4 linked regions of the Homo sapiens genome follow. The protein of the gene in region 1 interacts with the protein of each later gene in a pairwise test. Each region holds a gene or a part of one and is shown in the gene's direction. Other genes may lie near its edges. The genes, in order: TNFRSF10C, SYAP1, ASZ1 and ARL13B.

Region 1 (7,393 bases):
ACTCCTTTAAACAACCAGCTCTCTAGTGAACTAACAGAGTGAGAACTCACTCATTACTGTGGAAAGGGCAGTGAGCCATTCATGAGGGTTCTTCCCCCATGACGCTAACACCTTCACCAGGCCCATACCAACCTCAGGGATCACATTTCAATATGACATTTGGAGGGGACACACATGCAAACTGTATCAGGCTATGTAGCTGCATTTACTGTTAGCCCCAGTTTTGCAAGACTGGGGTCCCATCAGGTCCATAAGAAAATTGACAGAAAAGTCTAAACACGTAGTCTGTTCCTGGCTTAGGGGTCGTCGCTGCTTCCAGCGTTTATAGTTGTAGCCCTGGCCCTGTGGCCAAGGTACCAGGTGGTGGGTGGGGAGAAGGGGAGAGGTGAGGTAATACAGGGAAGACAGACAAAAATGACGGTCACTGGCCGGGCGCTGTGGCTCATGCCTATAATCTCAGCACTTATGGGATGCCAAGGCAGGTAGATTACCCGAGGTCAGGAGTTTGAGACCTGCCTGACCAACACAGTGAAACCCCGTCTCTGCTAAAAATATAAAAATTAGCTGGGCGTGGTGGCGGGAGGCTAAGGCAGGGGAATCACTTGAACCCAGGAGGTGGAGTTTGTAGTGAGCCAAGATCATGCCATTGCACTCCAGCCTGGGCAACAGAGCGAGACTGTGTCTCAAAAAAAAAAAAAAAACCACTACCACCACCACCACCACCACCAACAAAATGACAGTCATCACACTAGCATCCTCCCTACCTCCTCATCCCCAGATCCACTGGAAAAATGGAGGAAAGTCTGGTGGGGACACTCCTTTAGCCCACTCGTGTGGAGTAGGGGCACACACCAGTGAAGGTGTGGAAGCCAGCCCTTCATGCCTGTGTCTCCCCCCATTTTAGACAATCAATGTTTCAGTTGACTGTTCTGCTTCCCTGTCAAATTATTACTCTAAGGAGGGTATCTCTCTGCCCATTGCTAAACATTATGCACTGAACGGCATGTTTCTTGGTCCAAGGAAGTGCGACTTAGTGGTCCAAACTAGAATAATACCTTATTTCAGTTCTTTTATATTAATAGCACTCTGGGCATTTGCAGCCTCCACCAGGTAAGCAAAAGACAATCCACAGTCAGTTTCTGTTCCTGTCAAGACTCACCTGTACCCCCCAGGGCACTGCCCTCAGTCTCACTTTCCAAGTATGTTGAGGGCCTCCCCATCAGGGAATCTGCCTCATAGCTATAGGCAGTCTGTGTCTCTCCCGCTGCTAGACAGAACAGCTCTTATTGGCATTATGTGCCTGAGAGAGAGCAAGAGGAATGTGTTTCGATTCAGCCCATCTCTGCATCACTGTGGTTCCCCCATAACCACTCCTTTTATTTAATGGCCTCTGGTGACCACCTCAAGGGAGTACATGGTGGGTGGTATCTCTTGCTGATGTCAATCACTTTCCAAACCTGAGGCAGGTTCTACTGAGCAGTATGGATGTGTCCTACTTTAATGCGCTCCTCAAGTCCCCCTAGAGATTGCCATGGGGTCAGGCCTCATATGGACATCCCTTCAATAGGCCAGTTTTCCATTATTCTTGGAAACAATGGGGAATGTAGAGACGAATATCCAAATTTAATACACTTTATTTGAAAAGCAAGAATTGCAATGCTTGGCATATACAAAGACCAACTTGTCTTTGATATGTCCAAAGACCAAAAAGAGAAGTTTAGAGGCTTTTTTAAAAGGAGAAATTCTGGCCAGGTGCAGTGGCTCATGCCTGTAATCCTGGCACTTTGGGAGGCCAAGGCGGGCGGATCACGAGGTCACGAGATCGTGACCATCCTGGCTAACACGATGAAACCCCATCTGTACTAAAAACACAAAAAAATTAGCTGGGCGTGGTGGCAGGCACCTGTAGTCCCAGCTACTTGGGGGGCTGAGGCAGGAGAATGGCGTGAACCCAGGAGGCAGAGCTTGCAGTGAGCCGATATCGCACCACTGCACTCCAGTCTGGGTGACACAGCGAGACTCCATCTCAAAAAAAAAAAAAAAAAAAAGGAGAAATACTAATTATTTTTTTTTCTAGGAAGCTCATTGGCACTGTCAAATTTGAAGAAGAGGCGTGCTCTGACTGGTGAGTGACTGCAGTGGGTCAGGCTGGTCTTAGAGCAGTAGCAGGTTATGTCCATAGATATTAGATAGGACTATTAATAGTTTCAGGTTACAGCTGCCAGGCTTACAGAGAATTGCAGTTTGGGGGTAATACAGTGATTTTTCTTCCCCATGGCCTCTTGACTCTGTTTTAGTTGGGTGTGACAAGAATGACCCAATTTGTGCAATCAACTTTCACATTCTGCTTCCCAACTCTATGACCAAGACGTTGAGGACTGTTCATGAGCCAGAAAACAACTCAAGTACAGGGGCTTTTGCTGCTGTCAAATCTTCCATCACGCTAGGAAAACAGCATGCAATCCAACCCACCTAGCCAATTTGCCTTTGCCTTCTTCCATCAGAGGGGTGGCCTTCCAAATAGGATGTTGACCATTCACCTAGGAATGACTGTCTACAAACTAAGTAGCTCTTGGTTGGTCAGTAAAGAGCTGCGTATAGGGCAGTGTCCAAGTGACCACAGAATCCAGCAGCTCCTCACTCAGTTCCAGACTCAGTCTGTGGGGAACAGAGGCTCCCTGCTCATGAGTGTCTCCTCTTTGCCTTCCTCAGGCACCAGGATCCCGTATCAACCATTTCCATTTTGTAATAGAACTCTTCGGGGACTGCCCTCCCCGTTAGAGCTTTTCCAAGATCTCTGAAGACATCATGAGTTTTTCAGGTTTCAAGATTATTTTATGTCCTTCAGTCACAGGGGGAGCTTCAGCTAGTGTTCCATCGTAAGCTAGTAAGTGCCTCTCAAATGGAAACTTTATAGTCTAAAGGCCCAGTTCCCTGGAGGTGCTCACAGCCTTTTGCCATTAGCCCTAGGCAGTGCTCCACACAGGGCACAGAGAATGTGTGTTACCTGCAGTCTGGTTTCTAGTCTACACTGTGTAGTCCACCCTCCAGGGCCAAGGGGCCTGGAGTGCTCTAAAGACTTTCCTGCAGGCCCTCGTGGCTCTGTGTTAATGCTGTCAGTCTTCCTGAAGTCCTGTCCTCTCACCTCCTGCCTAGATCTGCCCCCAGCACACATTCCTGACTCCACACATTTCTCAGTGCCTGCGACCTGGCACACATTTCTGATCCGAACTCAGTGCCTGGGGCCTGGCAGGTGCCCAGGGCACTCCATTGCTCAAATCCAAGCCTGTGGAGAGGATGACATATCATTCCCAGGTTTCTGATGAGCAGAAAAAAAAATCTTTGTTTCTATAGTGCTATCCTCTTTTATCCACCATGTGAGAGGTCAGGAGCCGACTCACCCCAAGGGTCTAGGAGTTGTGCCATTGACCTTACTGCCTAGGGTCACAGGCTGGCACCCTTCAGTACCACACATTGGATCTCTCCACACAGCAGCAGTGTGCTTAACTCAATGGGGAGGTGAGTAGCCCAAGGTCAGATAGTTGGACCTGGATAGACACTTGACTGGGGGACAGGCTTTGGAAGCCACTCCCCTGGGCCTCCTCTGTCCATGGGGCCTCAATACTAGAGCCCACAAGGTCGGCCAGAGAGTGTCTGTGCCTCGACCATGCAAAGGGTGCCAGGTTGTGGCTAGGGATGCCCCCGGGGTTCCTCTCCCTCCTACCTACTCCTCAGCCTCTGCATGTGCCCGTCATGGCCCCTGTGTCCTTCATTCTGTCCACTCATGTGTTCACTGGGCCCCTCCTTGGTGCCAGGCACCCGCTACTGAGGGATACCAAGCCCCTGCCAGAGAAGCTTGGAGCTGGGTCACAGCAGCAAGGAGGCTGGAGACATCAGTGGCATCAGTGCACTGGTCAGTGAGGCCGCTGTGGGAGGAGGGAGTGGGAGCAGAAGCTAAGAGTGGACTGAAGTCCTTAGGCCAGGAGGTAGTTCAGGGTTTAAGAAGAGGAGAGACAGGCGTCCCGGGGAGGGAGCAGGCTCAGGATGGGCCTCCAGTGCCTCCTCTGGAGCTCACTACCCAGACTACAGCAGCGCAGTGGGCAGCGCCTCAGCTCCTTCCCCTTCTGCTGCCTACAGCCTGGACAGGACCCGGAATCAAACCGCAGGCCCTGGGTCACCGCTGCCGGAAAGAGCCAGTTCCTGTCCGTCCATGCACCCACCACCAAAACCCAGGCCTTCCTGGAGGTGCTAGGGGAGGCCATGCCCCTTTTCTGAGTGCTTGGAAGTGACTGCTGCAAGTGACAAGTGACCACGCCTTTTCCCCCGCGGGTATAAATTCAGAGGCGCTGCGCTCCGATTCTGGCAGTGCAGCTGTGGGAACCTCTCCACGCGCACGAACTCAGCCAACGATTTCTGATAGATTTTTGGGAGTTTGACCAGAGATGCAAGGGGTGAAGGAGCGCTTCCTACCGTTAGGGAACTCTGGGGACAGAGCGCCCCGGCCGCCTGATGGCCGAGGCAGGGTGCGACCCAGGACCCAGGACGGCGTCGGGAACCATACCATGGCCCGGATCCCCAAGACCCTAAAGTTCGTCGTCGTCATCGTCGCGGTCCTGCTGCCAGTGAGTCCCGGCCGCGGTCCCTGGCTGGGGAAGAGCGCACCTGGCGCCGGGAGGGGGCAGGGAGACGGGGACACGGCAGGGATGCCTGGCCCTGGTCACCTGCGGCCGGGCATGTCCGGGCAGGACGAACTCGCCGTCGGAGTCAGGGGAAGAACTGGGTCCCCGGGCTGGGCAGGAGGGACCCGGCCGCGAGGGAGCAGAGAGGCGGTCCCCCTGGCTGCCCCGAGCCCGCGAAGGGAGGGAAGTTCCAGAATCGAGAGAGGGAGGGAGTCAAGGTGGAACCCATAGAGTGAGCCTCCTGAAGACACAGAGCGGTTGCCTCTCTCATTAATTAATTAATTAGTTAATAAAATTAACCCCATGTTTACATTCTTAAACGTGTTCCTTGGAGATCGGTTTAACCAACAGCCAGTGAAAAAACTTTTCAGCGCTGTCTTTAGCAACTTTCACCTCCTCTGTCCTGAAAGTGGCAGGAAGCCGGAATGTGGCAGGAAGCGGTTAACCAAGGTGCTGCCTTGGTTAATGTCTTCCACTACCACCCGTGTGTCCCCTCTGTATCCCATAGGCAGGACCGGGGCTGGCCCCTTCCTTCAGCATAAACGGTGTAAAGTTGTTGTGAGTTGGCTTTGGAAACTGAGATTGGTAGTAGTGTGAGTGCAAGGACATATTATGTATAAAATATGCAGACTTCTAGGTCTCTTTCAGATTGATTGAGGTTTTTGCTAACAGCCCTTTTTAAGATTCTTTATGTAATACAAAAAAAAGAAAAAAGAAAAAGAAAAGGCCAAAGCAAGGTTACAGAAACCATGAGAGTTTGCATGTTGTCTTTCTACAAATTAATGCTAAATTCAGAAAAGCAGTAACATTTTCACCTCTCAAAAATTACACAACTGACTTTTAAAATAGTTTATAGTGGGTGGACTTACCTGAGGCAGCTAGAAGAATGGCTGTGTCAGGACAGTGGCCCTGAAGAGAGAATGCATGGATGACCAGTGTAGACAAGGCCAGCAACATCAGTTTCACGGTTTTGGGAATGTGAACTCTATGCGTCCCAAAGGAGGCTTTAATCCCTCCATCAGTCTTGCCTTATTAAATGCATTTAAATGTACAATCACTTTGTTAAATTTTGGAGCTAACACAAATCACATTAGATGTTTTATGGCAGTACATTCAGATTGATCTTCTTTTAAACAAGGGTATTGTATTTTACTGCATGGGTAAGCCACATTTTAATTCACTGTTGCCGCCTAGGGGCAGCTGGTTAGATCCCATCCTGACGGCCTTTGCTAATTCCAACAGCATTGTACTAAATACCCTTGTATGTATCGTGTGTCCACATATCCATGCACACCAGCTTATTGGGCAACTCCTTACAAGTTGAATTCTACTTCTCCTTCTGTGGGATAAATGACTTCAGAAGTTTCTTTAAATGTTCACGAATTTTCCTCCAAAAAACCACTGAACCCAGCTTACAGTCACACCTAGTCCACAAATGTGCCTGTGTCCCTACACCTTTGCTACACTTAGCTTTCATTCTTTACTAGTCTAAGATGTAAAACATAACACATCACATTGCTATGTATTTTTGTTTCCTCATGGTATTAGGAATTTTCAAGGATATAGGAGTTTTTTGGTACTGGGAGTAGACCAGGGTATCCAGATGAGACAGCAGGGAAGACTGAATTCTGAGCTGTGCACTTGGAAAACCCTGGTCAGTTGGGGCCAGTCCCTGCCACCCACCATGCCTGTGAATGGAGATAAGGTCTCCATCCTCAGCCTGTCAGGGTGACTTCAGATGAGCCTGGAGCTGAGTTCAGTTCCTGACCCCAGGTCCTGGCTCTGTCAATGCTGGGCTGGTCCAATCTGTGCGCCAGGTCCTTCCACACCATTCCTCTCTCTATCAAAGTAGGAATTGAGAAGTTCCAACGGCTCAGAATCTCGGACTCTCAGGCTGTCAAGGACTCCTGAGATTGAAGGTTGTGAATGGCTGGGCCCTGCCGTGCTCCCCCTCTGGCTCTGTGACTCTGGTGTGGCCCCAGCTCCTGCCTGTAAAGTGAAGAGGAGGTAAAAATCTTCAGCAGCCCTGTGTAAACCTCAGAGGGCTGTGTTACCAGGTGTGGGAGGACAAATCACATCCTCAGGGCTGGTGTCACTCACTCTGGACTGGATCCCCAGGCACCTGTCCTCCATCCAGCAGAGGCTGCCCCTGTTCCTACCTGCACCCTGGTACTTGCTCCCTGAGCTTGGGGCAGAAGCTTCTGAAGACTAGGGTGGAGCACCACGGGGAGGGGCCATGGAGGAACAGAGGAGCCAGACGTCAAGTGAGGACAGCGATGGCACTGCAGGGCCACAGCCTGGTTTACCTGCCATGCTTCCAGTTGTCCTTCTGGTAGGCGCCTGGCCCGGGTTGTAGTTTGAAGAGTGAGCAGGAAATGTCTCCATCCAGGTGGCTGCAGATGGCTACTCACCCAGGCTGTACTGAGAGGCCACAGTCCCAGTTCTGGTCCTCTGTCGTGTATCCAGGAGTGGCAGGGCAGTGAGGCTCTAGCTTCTAGGTCAGGGATGGGGACAGTGGGGACAGTGCCATGCCCCGAGCCTCTGCCGTTGGGCAGCTGGTATCCTGCTTCCAGCCAGAGAATGCACATCTTCATGTAGTGGATTTCCTAACAACCCGGGGAGATGAAGGTAGGTTGTTTTTCCTGTTTTACAAGTGGTAAAATGAGATTCAGGGCTAGAGTTCTCTGAGCAGCTGCTTCTCTGATCTCTGTCCT
Region 2 (7,808 bases), on another chromosome or scaffold:
ACGACCAGGCATGGTGGCTCACCCCTGTAATCCCAGCACTTTGGGAGGCCGAGGTGGGTGGATCACGAGATCAGGAGATCGAGACCATCCTGGTTAACACGGTGAAACCCCGTCTCTGCTAAAAATACAAAAAATTAGCCGGCCGCGGTGGCGGGTGCCTGTAGTCCCAGCTACTCAGGAGGCTGAAGCAGGAGAATCTCTTGAACCCGGGAGGTGGAGGTTGCAGTGAGCCCAGATCGCGCCATTGCACTCCAGCCTGGGCGACAAGAGCGAAACTCCATCTCAAAAAATAAAATAAAATAAACACAATGGAGTTTCTCCCCACCAAGGATGAAAGAACAGTGTTGTGGAGGAAGCAGTAAGGAACTTGGAACAATGATGTCAATTTCTGGGAAAATAAGCAGACGCTTCACTCAGCAGGGTAGCCTTGGGGGAGATCCAGGTCTCCATGGGTGTTGGGGGGTCCAGGGGAGGGACAAGGAACCACCTTGTCAAAAGGCTAGAGGCATAAACAAGTCTTCCAGAGGGCTCAGGGGAAAGAATGTTTGTGAAATGGGTTGGTATGGGTGCTAATACTTAATACCTGCCGCATATGTAAGGTTTCCTTCCACAGTTCCGTCTTTCATTATCTTTTTAGAACCAGGACAGTTGTTATGATCCCCTTTTTAGAATGAGGGACCTGAGGTTCAGAGATGTGAAATGTCTTGACCAAGGGTACGTTAGTTAATATGAGTGGCAAAGCCAGGACATCAATGCACAGCCAGACTCCACCACAGGATGTGAGGCCTGATCCAATTGTCCTATTCTATTCATCCATGAGGCTAATGGATAAAAGATAATCTGTATATACAAAGGGCTCATTATAATAACTATTGTATTATTAATCTCAAATGGGAAAAATAATGAGCTGGAAAACAAATTTGATAACAGGGTGTGGATTGACTGAATTGTGTGGGATAAGGATGTATCCTCATTCAACAAGTGTCAGTTCATGGCCCACCACCAGCATAACATCTTGCTGAATCCGCACAAGATGATTTTTTTTTTTTTTTTTTGAGGTGGGGATTCATTCTTGTCGCCCAGGCTGGAGTGCAATGGCATGATCCCAGCTCACTGCAACCTCCACCTCCCGGGTTCAAGTGATTCTCCTGCCTCAGCCTCCTGAGTAGCTGGGATTACAGGCGCCCACCACCACGCCCGACTAATTTTTGTATTTTTAGTAGAGACAGGGTTTTACCATGTTGGCCAGGCTGGTCTCGAACTCCTGACCTCAGGTGATCCACCTGCCTCGGCCTCTCAAAGTTCTGGGATTACAGGCATGAGCCACCGTGCCTGGCCAGATGATTTTTTTAAAATGAAAATGAAGCCCATCATTAAGTTGATTGCTTATGTTCTTGTTTTGTAATCTTTTTTTTTTTTCTTTTTTTCAGTCGGGGTCTCGCTCTATCACCCAGGCTGGAGTGCAGTGGCACGATCACAGCTCACTGCAGCCTCCAGCTCCCAGGCTCAAGCAATCCCCCTGCCTCAGCCTCCTGAGTAGCTGAGACGACAGGTGCAAGCCACTACACCCAGCTCATTTTTTATTTTTTGTATAGACAGGGTCTCGTTATGTTGCCCAGGCTGGTCTCAAACTTCTAGACTCAAGCAATCCTCCCACCTCGGCCTCACAAAGTGCTGGGATTACAGGCATGAGCCACTGTGCCCAGCCTAATCTCTTATTTTTAAGAATTCTACCTTTCAGAAGAGTTGTAAAACTGTCTATCCCTTGGTGACCACAGTGTTCACCACGATTTTGAGTGTACCTTAAGATAAAGCAGAGTAAGGCTGAAAGGGCTGGGCCCTATCTCTGCTGTGGGAAGGACCAGCACTATACTTCTTTTGCAAGTGAGGGAACTTGAGGGGCAAAAGGATGAGTAAAACGTCAAGTTTAGGCCGGGTGCGGTGGCTCACTCCTGTAATCCCAGCACTTTGGGAGGCCAAGGTGGGTGGATCACCTGAGATCAGGAGTTCGAGACCAGCCTGGCCAACATGGTGAAACCCCGTCTCTACTAAAAATACAAAATTAGCCAGGTGTGGTGGCAGGTGCCTGTAATTCCAGCTATTTGGGAGGCTGAGGCAGGAGAATTGCTTGAACCCAGGAGGCAGAGGATACAGTGAGTCGAGATTGTGCCACTGCACTTCAGCCTGGGCAAGACAGAGTGAGACTCCGTCTAAAAAAAAAAAAAAAGTCAAGTTTATTCACCTACTAGATGGTGGAATTAGAAGCCCATCCTAGGCTTCTCACTCAAATTCCAGGCTCTGTTCAATCATACTTGAAGCAAATATCCTATTCCCGAAAGTCTCAACCACTTTCAGGTTCTCATTGACTTAATAAAGCCTAGAAAGGCATTGATCCTAAGACATCTCCTGACTTCAAAGCTGAATCAATACTTGGACTCTAAAAACAGGCTGGAATGTCATCAATGCCACTGAACTGTACACTAAAAAAAATTTATTTTTACTTCAATTTAAAATATTAATAGTGTAATACACCAAAAATATATACCATTGAATTGTACACTTTAAACAGGTGAATTGTTTAAATCTCAGCTGTTTGGGGGAAAGAAAAAAACAGGTTGGGCTTGATAACCTAAAATCCTGGACCTGAATAAAATATAAATATAAGTCAGGCTGGAAAACTGGACAGCAGGGAAATCAGAGTTGTAATCAATTCCTCATGTATTCCCTCAGGTCACCGGAACTGTCCTCCTCTTCTCAAAATAGTTGGGGAGCAAGGAATCATGGATGTCCTTCCACAATTAATGACTGAAGACTGTGCTTGGGAAATGTGTCCATGAACTCCCTGCTCTGAAGGGGTAGTTATGCACATCACTAGTTTTTTGTTAGTTTTACATGTTATTGTGGGAAAAGTTAAAAATATAAAAAAGACAAATGTTTAACTACCCAGCTTCAACCCATGGCCAGGCTTGTTTCATCTATATCCCCCCCCATTCCCCCCACCCCCATCCTGTATTAATTTGAAGCAAATTCCAGACGTGGCATCATTTCTTTTTTTCTTTTTCTTTTTTTTTTTTTTGAGACGGAGTTTTGCTCTTGTCATCCAGGCTGGAGGGCAATGGCAGGATCTCAGCTCACTGCAACCTCCGCCTCCTGAGTTCAAGTGATTCTCCTGCCTCGGCCTCTCGAGTAGCTGGGATTACAGGCGCCCGCCAGCACACCCAGCTAATTTTTTGTATTTTTAGTACAAACGGGGTTTCACCATGTTGGTCAGGCTAGTCTCAAACTCCTAACCTCAGGTGATCCACCCATCTCGGTCTCCCAAAGCGCTGGGATTACAGGCGTGAGCCACTGCGCCTGGCCCAGATATGGTATCATTTCTTTGGTAAAATCTCAATATGTGCGGTGGATAAACAGATGGATAAACAAAACGTGGTGTATACATACAAGGGAATACTATTCACTCTTAAAAAGAAATTGACACAGCCTTGAGGACATTATACTAAGTGAAAGAAGCCAGTTACAGACAAATACTGAATGATTCCACTTATATTAAGGTATCTAGTCAGATCCATAGAGACAAGAAGTAGAATGGGGGGAGGAGGGGGATGACAAGGACAGGAATGGGGAGTTGTTTCATAGGTAGTTTCAGTTTTGCAAGATGAAGTTCTATTTTTCTTTTTTCTTTTTTTTTTTTTTTTGAGAATGGACTCTGCAACCTCTGCCTCCCGAGTTCACGCCATTCTCCTGCCTCAGCCTCCCTAGTAGCTGGGACTACAGGCGCCCGCCACCACGCCCGGCTAATTTTTTTCTATTTTCAGTAGAGACGGGGTTTCACCGTGTTAGCCAGGATGGTCTCGAACTCCTGACCTTGTGATCCTCCCGCCTCGGCCTTCCAAAGTGCTGGGATTACAGGCGTGAGCCACCGCACTCGGACTATTTTTCATTCTTTTAATTGCAAGATGAAGAGTTCTGAAGATTGATTGCTCAACAATGTAAATGTACTTAACAGTACTGAATTGTACACTTAGAAACGGTTAAGATGGTAAATCATATTAAGATGGTAAATTTTGTGTATTTTACCACAATTAAAATTTTGTAATTTCACAATTCCTTAATTTTATCAACTACCCAGTGTCCAAATTTCCAGTTCTTATAATAAGTATCATACTATTTTTTTCAATGTGTTTGCTGAATTAGGATCCTAATAAAATGCACAAGGGGCCATGTGTTACATCTCTTAAGTCTTTTTTAATCTATAGGTTCCCCACCACACTCCTCTCTTCCTTGCAATTTATTTGAAGAAACAAGGTTGTCTGTCCTGTGGCTTCTCATAGTCTAGATTCTGCTGACAGCATCCCATTGTGTTGTTTAACACCTTATTCTGTCCTCTTATTCCCTGTTGGGCTTGGCGGCTTTGGGTTAGTTTTGAATTGGGCTCAGGAGGAGGCTAAAGACATCCAATTCTGCGGGAACGCAGCCCTGCGGGACCTGAAAAGGCGAGACTAAGTCACCAGCCAAGCTGCCTAGAGGCAATCTTAAAATGGGACTGGCTAGGACTGTGACAAAGACACCGTCCACATGCCTACTAGGTCAGTCACCTACAAAGCTGGCGAATGAGGAAAAGAGGGAAGGCAGGGCTACGCTGGGAAAGCTCTTTGTCCCCTATCCACGCGCACAAAACAGTTGTCACAACTGACGTCACCAGGGGCGGAGCCTTTGGACGGAAGTGACGCTTGCGCGGCCGCGGCGGAGTCGTCATAGAGGCGGGGCTGCGGCGGCTGCGGTGTTCCTCCGACTTCCGGACATCTCCCTGGGAGTCGCGCAGAGTGGAGTCAAAGGCAACCAGTGCTCGCTGCGGTCTCTGGGGATCGGGACCGCGGCGGCGGCCCGCGAGCGGGATGTTCCGGGGCTTGAGCAGTTGGTTGGGCTTGCAGCAGCCGGTGGCAGGCGGTGGGCAGCCCAATGGAGATGCTCCACCCGAGCAGCCGTCCGAGACGGTGGCTGAGTCTGCGGAGGAGGAGCTGCAGCAAGCGGGAGACCAGGAGCTCCTCCACCAGGCCAAAGACTTCGGCAGTGAGTCTACCCTGGCTCTGGGACCGGGAAGGGGGGGGCGCATTCCTCCTCTGGGACGGCCCTGGGGCGCGGGCCCGACTGGCTGGGGGATGAGGGGGCCGAGGTGGGAGGCAGGGGAGGAAGATGTGTCTGTCGGTCAGTCCTCTCCGGGTCGGGAGAGATTGGTGAGGATCTGGACGAGGCCAGAGCTTCATCTAGCAGTCAGGTCCTGTCCCTGAAGTTCCTGGTGACAAGTCTACAAAGTTTGCAGACATTGGAATCAGGTATGCAGTCAAGCAGTGTGACCCGACGTCTTCAGGTTTGACAAGGAATCTTTTTTGTTCAACTCGAAAACCTTCATTTACACCCCCCAGATCGGGGATAGTTGGCGAGCTTGAATTGGTTGAAAAAATAATTTTTTGCCCCTAGGTCAGAACGTGTTGTCTGAAGTAAACTGACAGTTACTGAATGTCAATGTCTGCCCCGGTCAAATGCTTTTTAGGTACAGAGACCTTTTTCCTTAAGGAGGGAGAGAAAATGCCAACTGTCTGCTATACGCAAGTTGCAGTACTAGATGTTTTATGAAAGATATCCCATTTCATCTGTTAAACACCCCCAGTGAGTTGGGGGAACAAGCCCAGAGTTATTGGGCCAAAGTTATACTGATAGTGAGTGGTAGAAGTGGAATTTGAGCTTCGATCTTTCTCATTTTAAAGCCCGTGCTCTTTCCAAGTTTACAGTCTACAGGGGTTGGGGGACAGGTGATAATAGACGTGGAGTAAACACATGCTGTAGTAATTCTCATTTCTGGAGAGACCATGGTGGGCTTCAGTGATCACAGAAAGCATCTTTGAGGCCGGATATGGTGGCTCAGGCCTGTAATCCCAGCACTTTGAGAGGCTGAGGTGGGCGGATCATGAGGTCAGCAGTTCGAGACCAGCCTGGCCAACACGATGTAACCCCGTCTCTACTAAAAATACAAAAAATAGCCGGGCGTGGTGGCGGGCACCTGTAATCCCAGCTACTCAGGAGGCTGAGGCAGGAGAATCGCTTGAACTGGGGAGGTGGAAGTTGCAGTGAGCTGAGATCGCACCACTGCACTCCAGCCTGGGTGACAGAGCAAGACTCCATCTCAAAAAAACAAAACAAAACAAAACAAAAAAGCATCTTTGAGGAGGTGAGCCCTAAAGCAGCCCAGCACTACAAGTGAGAGAACTGCAACAAAGGTAGATACTAAGTTCAGCAACATTTGAAGAATCTACTAAAAGATGGGGGTGGGGGGATGGGGGTGGAGACAGGGATGTGGGAGGAGAGCAGCCTGAGAGTAGATAAACACATATTTGAGTAAGAAAGGGCCGAACAGTTTTTCTGGAGACAGGGTCTCACTCTGTCGCCCAGGCTGGAGTGCAGTGGCACGATGTTGGCTCACTGCAACCTCCACCTCCAGGGTTCAAGTGATCTTCCTACCTTATCCTCTCCAGTAGCTTGGATTACAGGCATGCCCTACCACGCCCAGCTAATTTTTGTATTTTTAGTAGAGATGGGGTTTCGCGATGTTGGGCAGGCTGGGCCCTAACGTTTAAAAGTTTACTGTGGGATGAAAGGACAGGGAAAACAGACATAATCTCAAACCATGACAGTGTATAATCTCAGCCCAAGGCCCCCAGATAGAATAGTCTTGCTCTGTCGCCCAGGCTGGAGTGCAATGGCACGATCTCGGCTCATTGCAACCTCCACCTCCTGGGTTCAAGCAATTCTCCTGCCTCAGCCTCCTGAGTAGCTGGGACTACAGGCACACGCTGCCACACCTGGCTAATTTTTTTTTTTTTTGTATTTTTAATGGAGACAGTGTTTCACCATGTTGGTCAGGCTGGTCTCAAACTCCTGATCTCAAGTGATTCACCCACCTTGGCCTCAAAGTGGTGGGATTACAGGCGTGAGCCACCGTGCCTGGCCCCTCTGAATATTTTCTAATAACTGCATTTTTCATATGGATGTGTACTTTGGAGCTAATGCTGCCATCTTTCTGCTCACCAGATTCTCTTTTGATATTTACGGAAGCTGAGGTTAGATGGAAGTACCCACAAACACACACACATTGTGAATTTAAAGCTTCAGAATAAATGAGAATTCTTTCTTTTCTGAAATTTATGTGATTTTAGAAAGTCGTAAAGGTTCTAGTTCATATACAAACTGTGAGAGACAAGAGAGATGATCAGATATTTTTTATTTCTACATATTGATCCTAAGAAGTATATTGTCTTTAAGAAGACCCATTTATGTTTTGAAAACTGGAATTAAACATCTGTGAGCCTGACTCCCAGAGTAGATTCATTTCTTAAGTCTTTTGAAATCTACATAAAATATCAGCCGGGTGCGGTGGCTCACGCCTATAATCCCAGCAGCTTTGGGAGGCCAAGGCAGGCAGATCACGAGGTCAGGAGATCGAGACCAGCCTGACCAACGTGGTGAAACCCTGTCCCTACTAAAAATACAAAAATTAGCTGGGCGTGGTGGTGCGCGCCTATAATCCCAGCTACTCAAGAGGCTGAGGCGGGAGAATCGCTTGAACCCGGGAGGCGGAGGTTGCAGTGAGCCGAGATCGCGCCACTGCACTCCAGTGTAGGTGACAAAGTGAGACTGCATCTCACAAAAAAAAAAAAAAAAATCTCCTGGGAGCCCCATTTGTTCTGCATATATTTGTTGAGTGCCTACCTTCAAGACTGGACACTAAATACTTCCTGGTTCCTGGTGAC
Region 3 (7,036 bases), on another chromosome or scaffold:
ATTAGATAAGCAAGCACTGTTCATTGAAGTGCCTGGTGGGAAAAGTAGAAACAAAGCATTTCAAAATATGTTTCAAAGCTGAAAACAAGAAAGGAAAAAAAGTTTTAAAATGCATTTTGAGGCTGGGATGCTCAGTTAAAAATAGACACTAGAGAATCCAAAGGGGAGGAGGCAAGGAGGGGTCAAGGGTTGAAAAACTACCTATTAGGTACTATATTCACTACTTGGGTGGTGGGATTAATAGAAGACCAAACCTCATCCTCAGCAACACACAATATACCCATTAACCAACCTTAACGTGTACCTCCTGAATCTTAAAAAAAAAAAAGACTTCTGGATCCAAATTGTTACTTAGACAACTGTAAGTCAGATATATTCAAATACATCACCATCACCCTGTATTTATATATGCATATATGCAAATACTAGGTGCATTTCTAATAAACAGCAATAGATTTCCTGGCTTTTATATTTTTACTTAAGTTGTATTGTTTTATTTTCATTTCATGTTGTTCATTGCTAGCATGAAGAAATACAATTGATTTTTTAAATATTTCTCTTGAATGCTGTAACCTTGCCAAATTCATTAGTTCTAGTACTTTTTTTGTGGAGTCCATCAGGTTTTCTATATACATCATGCTGTCTGTGAATAAAGACAATTTTGCTTTTTTTCCCATCTGGAGGCCTACCATTTTTCTTTTTCCTTGTCTTGTTCCGCTGGCTAGAACTTCCAATACAATGTTGGGTAGAAATGTGAGAGCATACATCCTTGTCTTGTTTCTGATGTTGGGGGAAAGTACTCTTTCACCATTAAATATGATGTTAACTGTAAATTTTCCATAGATGCTTTTGTCAGGTTGAGGAAGTTCTCATCTATTCCTATGTTGCTGAGTGTTTTTGTTAGAAATAAATGTTGGATTTTGTAAAATACTTGTTCTGCATTTGTTGAGGGTTTTTTTTCATTTTTAGTTTGTTAATATGGTACATTATATTGATTGATGTTTCAAATATCAAACCAGCCTTGCATTCCTAGGATAATTGCCTGTAGTCATGATGTATTAACCTTTTTATGTATTTTTGGATTCTGTTAAAATTTGTTTAAAACATTTTTATTTTCAGTGAAGATTATTGGTTTATAGTTTTCTTTCCTTATAATGGCACCCTCTGGTTTTGGTATAAGAGTAATTTTGCTTCATAGAATGAGTTGGGAAGCATCTTCCCCTCTTTAGTTTACTGGTTGAGTTTGTTTAGAATTGATGTTGTTTTCATTAACTGTTTTGTAGAATTCACCAGTGGAGCCATCTGGCCTGCTGTTTTCTTTGTGGAAAATTTAATTTAATTTATAATTACTAATTAAGTTTTTAAAAAATAAGTCTAGGGCTATTCAGGTTATTTCTTTTTGAGTGAGCTGTGGTAGCTTGTGTATTTTGAGAAATTTATCCATTTCATCTAAACTGTCTAATTTATTGGCATAAATTTGTTCATAATACTTCCTCATACTTCTAAAATCTGGATAATCTGTACTGATGTTACTTCTCTTGTTCTTGATACTGGTAACTTGTTTCTTCTCTCTGTTTTGCTTAATCAGTCTAGCTAGAGGTTTGAAAATTTTACTGATCTTCTCTTAATAAGGATCTGTATAAGAATAAGGAGTTAGCAATATGAAGGTCTGGGGACAGGCAAGAGCACTTGCACAGTTCCTGCAAAGGGGAGATCTTGGCATTTTCAAAGACAATAAACTGTAAGTGGCCAAGAATGGAAGCATGGAGGAGAGCAGTTATGAGACTATGGCAATATAAATCAGAGAAAGATGATGTTGTCTTGGACCACTGCAGTGGCTAATGAGGTGATGAAAAGTGATCAGAAGCAGATTATGAAGGCAGGGCTAATAGGAGCTGCCGGTGACTTGTACTTGGAATGACAGAGAAGAGTCATGAATTATGCCTAGTCTTAAGCCTGAGTAATGTGGTTAATGGTGGCTTTATGAAATAGGGAAGACTGAGAGGAGCAGATTTGGGTTATTATGCAGGTAAGTGCAGTGGAGATGAGACATCAACAGTTCGGATTTAGATGTAATGAAGAATTTGAATTCGAATGGTTAATTCAAATAATTTGTTGTTGCCACGTATGTGTGTATGTGGGGGTTTTGGGTGGCGTTGTTGTTGTTGTTGTTGTTGTTGTTGTTGTTGTTGTTGAGACAGGGTCTCACTCTGGTTGCCTAGGCTGGAGTGCAGTGGCACAATCTCGGCTCACTGAAGCCTTGATCTCCCAGGCTCAGGTGATTCTCCCACCTCTGAAGTAGCTGGGATTACAGTTGTGCAGACCACATCCAGCTAATTTTTTTTTTTTTTTTTTTTTAAGTAGAGGTAGAGGCAGGGCTTTCCTCTGTTGCCCAGGCTGGTCTCGAACTCCTGGATTCAAGCAATCCACCTGCCTTAGCCCCCCAAGTGGTAAGATTACAGGCCTGAGCCACCACACCTGGCTAGTTGTATATATTTTTTTATGTTTGCTTAAGTTATCCAGGAAATTCAATCTTTACCTCATAAAGATTGTCTATCTAATGAAGCCACTATGTAAGGGATATTCAAGGTAGAGGAGGCAATCTTTTACAACTGATTTAGCATATAATTTCACATAAAACATTCAAATTATAATATACCATGAAATATAAGAAACAGATATATATGAATTGTGCTAACAAGGACATAGGTGTGAAGTGTTCAGATTTCAGGGTATAACCTTATGCTAACAAACCTTACAGAGAAATAGTCTATTGGTAGGTTGTATATGTAATGTGAATAACCAATAAAAACTTTCTTGGTAAGATCAAAACATGGAACTCTGAAATTATTTATTTTTCTTTTCCAAAGTTCTTTGTGTATAAATCAGATCTTGAGGACGACTCAGGAAAATTGGGCTCAGAGTCTCAGACCTCCTTTAAAACAGACCATGATGTTATGTTCAGCCCAAGTAGAGCTGATAAAATCTGGTGTCCTTGGAATAGGCCCAGAAGGTGACTAACTTCCAGGAGTAGAAGGATTGAATCTCTAATTTTGGGAAATGATAAACTACAGAGAAACCACTATCCTCTCCCAGAAAGTACTCTTAAGAGAATATTAAGCTGGTTAATCTATTGGACTTATCTCTTTTCTAATTATATATAGTAAGTCTCCCAGTCAGAATAAAATTCTTTCAGTCTCAGACTAAAGTAGAATCATAATAGAATACATTAAGGAATGAAGTTTTTAAATTTACATTTTTGTTTCAGCAATCCTCTAAATAAAATGTAATAAGCATTTAGTATTAGCAAATCCTTTGAGGGCAGGGACCTTATTTGTGTCATTCATTACTATATTCCTAGCATAAGCATAGTGTGGGTACACTGATAATTTTCTAGATGAATATGTATATTAGTGAACTTCATAGTAGAAAGCGTGGCTTATTTCATGTATTTTTAATACATTTATTCACTAGAGGGTGCTGTGTAAGCATTCAGCACTTTAAAAGTGTCATCTCTTTCACTTGTACTTACTTGCAGGAAGGTTGGATTTTTAAATCACCTGATTTAGCAAAAGCTTTCATTTCTTTTCGTTTTCAAAGCAGTACTGGTGGTATTGTGTATGGTTAAATTAATGAAAATGAGAGATTAATGGCAGCATTAACACAAATGTTTCCTTTCTTCCTCCTCCTTAGGAGACTTATGACCCCAATCATGTATGCTGCTCGAGATGGTCACACCCAGGTTGTTGCTCTCCTTGTTGCTCATGGAGCAGAAGTTAATACCCAGGATGAGAATGGTTACACTGTGAGAAACATTTTTACAATGTTTCTTTTTGTTTCTGTTATTATCAGTAATCTACAAAAAAAGAATTTTAAGAAGTAATAATTACAAAAGGGCTGGAATATAATTGCTATCTGGTGAAAAAAAGCAACAGTTGAAATAGAAGGGTATGGTGACTCACACCTGTAATCCCTGCACTTTGGGAGGCCGAGGCAGGCGGATCATTTGAGGTTAGGAATTTGAGACCAGCCTGGCCAACATGGTGAAACCCTGTCTCTACTAAAAATACAAAAAATTAGCCAGGCATGGTGGCACGTGCCTTTAATCCCAGCTACTCAGGAGGCTGAGGCAGGAGAATCGCTTGAACCCAAGAGGCAGAGGTTGTAGTGAGCCAAGATCGCACCACTGCACTTCAGCCTGGGCAACAAGAGCGAAACTCCATCTCAAAAAAAAAGAAAAGAAAAGAAATAGAAATGAGGAATTAACTGACTCTCGTAGTCCTTACTCTTGATTAAAAAAAAAAATTGTAACACACAGCAAAATCTGGGCTCTAAAATATACATAAGAATTATTTTTTGTAGAAAACCCTTCAGTGATTGGCAAATAAATCATTTTATTCCTTAACATCAGTTAATTGTATAAAACACTGGTTTTAAAAAATCAATGAGCTTTGCAGTCAGCTTTGCAATTACAACTTTGGAAATATGTTTACATTATATTGTAAAATGAAGAGATTGCATCATTCCATTAATTAACTATGTTCTCTTTTTTATTGTGTCATAAATACTGTTGAAAACTTTTCCTGTCTGTCTCATATACACTCCTTCTCTTTAAACAATCTTCTTTTCCCCCTACTTACAGGCTTTAACGTGGGCAGCACGTCAGGGTCATAAAAATATAGTTTTGAAGTTGCTTGAACTTGGAGCTAATAAAATGCTACAAACCAAAGATGGAAAGATGCCAAGTGAGATTGCAAAAAGAAACAAACATCATGAGGTATCCTTCTGTACATATTAAACTTATTTTCTGTGGCATATCACATTATCATTTGTAGAACTTTTGTATTATTCTGTTAGAATTAAAAGTGTAATTATAGTGTATCTGGCAATTATTAAATGTTTAAATATGTATCTTTCCTCCAGCCAGGTAATGAGAACTTTATTTTGCTAGAGTATTCATCTTCTATGAAACAAGAAGCACTTATAGTAATTTAAAAGCTCTATAAAAGAGTAATAAAATCTTATTCTGGCCCCAGGAATAAAATTGTAATATACTATTTAAACATTTTAAACTGGTCCAGAATTTTAAAAGTAATTTAGTGAAAGCTAGTAAAATGCCAGTTTGAACATGTAACTCAAACATTCTTTTGTAAGTTTAATTAATGTATTAAACAATTTAAAAATTAAATTCCTTAAACAACATTTGCTCTTATATGTGTGACAGGGCTTACGATAAAGTGATAATATACCTGGATGTATAATCTGTCATTCAGATGTTAAACTCAATAATAAATACTTGCCATACATTAAATTACTTTATCAATATAAACTTTTGGTCTGAAGATTAAAGCTTTAGCCACAAGTCTGTAACTTCTAAGCAAGGATCAAGTATAGTACAATTATAAAACTAAGTTGTTTAGTTCAAGAGTTTGTAACACTGAGTTCCCGAATTTGAAAGCACGTAAAATTCCAAAGATTCCGTCATGTAATCATCAAACCAAGCCACTTTTACTGCATATAAAGTAACTTCCTCTAACCTTTTAAGCAATCTGATAAACATGGCTATCATTTTCCAAATATTATTCTAATATTTTCAGAATTTTTATAGGATAAACAGTAATCACTACAGCCCTGTAGAATTTCAAAAAGGAATTTACCATTTTTCTTCCAAACTTTGAAAATTCAAAAACTTAAAATTATTTTATTACATTGTTAAATGTAGAGTAGATGACACCAAACTTGACATAAGAAGTTTATGAACATCAAAGGTTATTTTGAGTCATAAATCATTTATTGAAATGAGATTTGATCTTGTATTTTGGCTGAGTATGTGATATAACCTTGACTTCCTGAGAGGTTAGATTTTAAAACTCAGGAATTTCACCATATCTTTTTGAGGTGTTCAGTTAGGATTTGTATACATTTAGTCATGCTCATTACTCTCTTGCCACTTAGCAATGTTTTTAAAGTACTATCTTAATATTTAATCTGAGTCATTTATCCAAATGGAATTTTTAGTTTCGCTATGTATCTTACCAAAAATATTAATTACTATCTTCCTTTAATTTTTACTATTTTGAATTAGATGTACTTTTTTCTTTTCTGATTATTGTAGGTTAAGGAAGCACTTAGATATCCCAATTACCCTGATTTGTTTATTATACATTGTATATGTGTATCAAAATATCGCATGTACCCCCCAAAATATATACAACTGTGATATATCATTTTTTTAAAAGTTGTTATCAGGGTAGTAAATTGTGAAACATCTGTCCCACTTACTTGCTAAAATTTCCTTTCTGGATATGAGATAATCGTATGTTCAGTTTCTTTTAAGTGTAAGTTACAGTATGCAATGTTAATTATATTTGAATGATGTTAACTTTTTTCAGATCTTCAACTTACTTTCTTTTACTTTAAATCCATTGGAAGGAAAACTTCAACAGCTAACTAAAGAAGACACTATTTGTAAAATATTGACAACAGATTCTGATAGAGAAAAAGATCACATTTTTAGGTAATATAGCATGTTTTAGTTCAACAGAATACCTATAAGTAAAATTTGTGTATATTTTATTGTAGTAAATGTGGTGACTTATTTAAAATATATGATATTTTAAATGTTTACAAGCATTTTTAAATGTCTGGGTTTTTAGTGTTCTCCAGAATTTTAGAAAATTTTTATTCATTTTTATGTACTAACACTAATGATAATAACTTTAAATGTAAACTTTAAGTAAGATATCAACAATAAAATCTATTTTTAAAAGGTTCTGAAATTATATTAGTGTTCAAACAGTATAACACCTTGTTTTCTAATTATTTTTAGTACAGTTCTAATTTTATAAGCTAAAATTAAACATATACTTTTCCCCCCAGAACACCACTGTTGAGTACATGGCCAAAAATAATTCTCTCCTTACCCCATTTAAAGTTACTTAAATTTTACTTATTGCAATTAAAGAGGTGTGGTTTTTTTTCATTTTTTGTTTTTTGTGGGTTTTTTTGCCTCAAACACCTGTGCTCAAGCAGTTCT
Region 4 (3,060 bases), on another chromosome or scaffold:
ATGAACTGTGTCAAAAATCTTGATGTACCATAACTGTTTTGTGCATTTGGTTTTCTTTCTTTTCTTAGATTTCTATAGGAAGCCACTGCCTCCCCTGGCTGTGCCACAGCGACCTAACAGTGATGCTCATGATGTGATCTCATAAACAAGACGTATGGAGGAGTTCTCTTAATATCAGCAAGGTGAACTGGGACATTCTTCTTTCTCAGAAGAAGAAACATCTTGTAAATTGATGACTGGGGCAAGATAACCATAATAATTTTAGTGAGAAGATTAATACTCAAGGACCTGACTTGATAATTACTTATTTGTGTTTTTCATGGTTAAAAAAATAAAAGAAGCACAATGACCAGTACATGAAATCAGCATTTGGACCAAATTAGCAAGATTTACTGTTGACTCTGGTTTATACATCCCCACTCATGAGCATACTTCTGAAGGAAAACTTTACAAAAAGAGCCAATGGACTCAGCACTTTCTTTACTATTTGTTCAATAGCCTATATTTCTAGATATTAAATATTTTTTGTAAGATATATGCACATAGAAGGGGGACTTCTAGGAATTTATAACCAAAATTTTAAAACTATTTTTATATTTTTTTAAATCTTTAAAAATTTTAATTACTGTGATATTGATTATACACCTTTTTTATAGATGATTTGTTTAAATTATATCTGGAAAATAGAGTTGATTTACTTTCAGACATGAACTATACAAACAGGATATATTTATATGGCTTGAGGTATGTTTTGTAATAGCGTTGTTCTTTAAGTGTACATCGTAATTTGACCTAATTTAAAAATAATATATTTTCGAAGTAGTAGATTCTCAGATCTTTATTCTAACAATTACATGATTTGAAAACAGTACTCAATGAGACTGGAAATACCTTTTGTACCTAAATGTTTTTTAAATTAATCAAAATACATTCTGTGAGATACTATTAAAAGTCTCAGTAAAGTCCTATTTTAAAGGTTAGACACTTTCAGAGATCAAGGTGCTCCCTATACTCCCTTGTTCCATCAGAAGCTGCAGTGACTCTTTTAGGTGATTCTAATTCTTTCATGCCTTGAAATTAAACTATGAAATTAAAGGCAGAAAAACTGGAAAACCTACTGCAGGTCCAGAGACTTCTGTTTTACAACTGGGAAACAGCTTGTGTACTAAAGTAATGAGAATAAAAATGTTGGCCCAAAATTACTTTTATAAATAAATAATTCCAAAATAATTTCTTAATTTAAAATGATAGCACTTCTCTTGCACTTAAGAATGGCATCCATAAGATTCTGTATTTGGCATTTAGACTAACTTCTAGATGTATATTTTTAATAATAGATTCATAATGTTACATTTAATTGAAAACAAACCTTTATATCCAATGAAAATAGTATAAACAGAATGATTTTTATACCACCTTGTTAAGATTGGTGCTTTTGGTAACTTGTACTGACACAACAGACATGTGCTAGTATCTGATAACATTAAGTACATTTTATGTCGTTTAATATAATTATTTACTTTAAAAATTGTACTTCAGAACATCAGATTTTATTCACATTTTTTAACTCACTGAACTTTAATAATCAGGTCACCTGTACTCTAGTCAGCACTGTATATATTCTTGGAGTTTGTACATGGGACTTAGCAACCACACTGAGTGAGGTAAAAGCATTTGATTTCAGATCTAAAATTCGTAACAACCTAAATTTGAGAGGTGGCTGAAATGTGATGAAAAGCAATACGAAAAGACAATGTAAACTTTGAAAAGGATTTTAGAGGGAAAATTGCATAGCTTTTTGTAACATTTACTTAATTTTAAAACTAAACTCATACTTTTGCTATCTTTTTAATATTTATCTCGTTTGGGAGTATACGTGTTTTTAAAATTTGTGTTTTCTATCTGTTTACTATAGTGTAGCTACTGGCTTCATTTAATAAAAATAAATGATTTTGAAATTAAATATAATATAGAATTCACATTTTATATAGCTCTCTCAAAAATTAATTTTTATTCCTTAAGCATTTTAAAAACATTTTAAAAAATGTTTTGTAAATCCAGGTGTATTTTAACAATTAAATGCCTATTTTGTTATATGTTATACTTTTATTCTTAATTCTGAATTTTGACATTTTCACACAATAAAAATAATTTATATCAATATTCTGTTTCTCTTTTCAATTGGTAGATTTAAATGATTTCCTTTGGGTAATAAAATAGGTAAAGATTTTAAAATATGATTATTGAAAAACAGTTTAAATCAGTAGATTAAAATAATGCATTTTTTTGATACTTTACACACAAAACTTTTTTCTCTCTGCAAGTTTTTATGTATGTGGGAAAGAATTTGTGATTTTAAATGCAGCTACAAATAGCATTTCACCATATGATGTTAGAGGATTTGATGTCTGTCTTGCGTTAAAGCTGTTGGTCAACAGATATGTTTTTATGTATTTAAAAGAGGCTCTTGTGTGCCTTTATGTGTAAAATGCATATTACGTAGTATACATGATATTGTATGTAACTGACTTCAAATATAAAACTATGCATAGAAACAACACTAGAAAGAAATGTAGTTTGGCTTACTTTTGTAGTGAGGGAGGCAAATTTATAATATTGTATAAATTATTTAAGTACCATGTTTTCTGCAAGTTTAAAATTAAGTGCTTTTATAAATGCCAGATTAAGACTACAATTCCCTTAATATGTAAAACCTGTGAACATCGTGGAGCAGTTCACCTGCAGAATACAACTAAAGAAATCAAATGCTTCTAGGTAGCAAAAGCTATTCACAAGCTAAATTGTTTATACATATAAAGCTGTAGCTTATAAACTTTATCATCCTTGGCTTTACTTAGTAAATTTTTTTGCTAAGTGGAATATGCTTTGCAACTGAGATTCTGCTAATAATGGTTTATTAATTTATCAGGAAGTATATTCCAACTGATCCAAAGAACAAATTCAAATATTTTAAAATTTTCAATTAAGCATGGCATAGGTTATCAAAATAGCAATAATCCTTTATCTTTACAGAAACAGAATAATAGATACCTGTTTTTT

Evidence for each region.
Region 2: the proteins of TNFRSF10C (region 1) and SYAP1 interact in binary tests that used the Homo sapiens proteins (3 or more experiments, as listed by UniProt).
Region 3: the proteins of TNFRSF10C (region 1) and ASZ1 interact in binary tests that used the Homo sapiens proteins (3 or more experiments, as listed by UniProt).
Region 4: the proteins of TNFRSF10C (region 1) and ARL13B interact in binary tests that used the Homo sapiens proteins (3 or more experiments, as listed by UniProt).

What each region holds. Positions count from the first base shown.
Region 1 is NC_000008.11:23,098,560-23,105,952, forward strand, and holds the start of TNFRSF10C (tumor necrosis factor receptor superfamily member 10C precursor), read left to right. Parts: upstream 1-4,361; 5' UTR 4,362-4,562; coding exon 4,563-4,622; exon of another isoform or gene 4,623-4,999; intron 5,000-7,393. UniProt on the Homo sapiens protein: Receptor for the cytotoxic ligand TRAIL. Lacks a cytoplasmic death domain and hence is not capable of inducing apoptosis. May protect cells against TRAIL mediated apoptosis by competing with TRAIL-R1 and R2 for binding to the ligand.
Region 2 is NC_000023.11:16,714,827-16,722,634, forward strand, and holds the start of SYAP1 (synapse-associated protein 1), read left to right. Parts: upstream 1-4,785; 5' UTR 4,786-4,898; coding exon 4,899-5,073; intron 5,074-7,808.
Region 3 is NC_000007.14:117,382,467-117,389,502, reverse strand, and holds part of ASZ1 (ankyrin repeat, SAM and basic leucine zipper domain-containing protein 1), read left to right. Parts: intron 1-3,693; coding exon 3,694-3,805; intron 3,806-4,642; coding exon 4,643-4,777; intron 4,778-6,392; coding exon 6,393-6,517; intron 6,518-7,036. UniProt on the Homo sapiens protein: Plays a central role during spermatogenesis by repressing transposable elements and preventing their mobilization, which is essential for the germline integrity.
Region 4 is NC_000003.12:94,053,119-94,056,178, forward strand, and holds the end of ARL13B (ADP-ribosylation factor-like protein 13B), read left to right. Parts: intron 1-68; coding exon 69-145; 3' UTR 146-2,560; downstream 2,561-3,060. UniProt on the Homo sapiens protein: Cilium-specific protein required to control the microtubule-based, ciliary axoneme structure. May act by maintaining the association between IFT subcomplexes A and B. Binds GTP but is not able to hydrolyze fit; the GTPase activity remains unclear.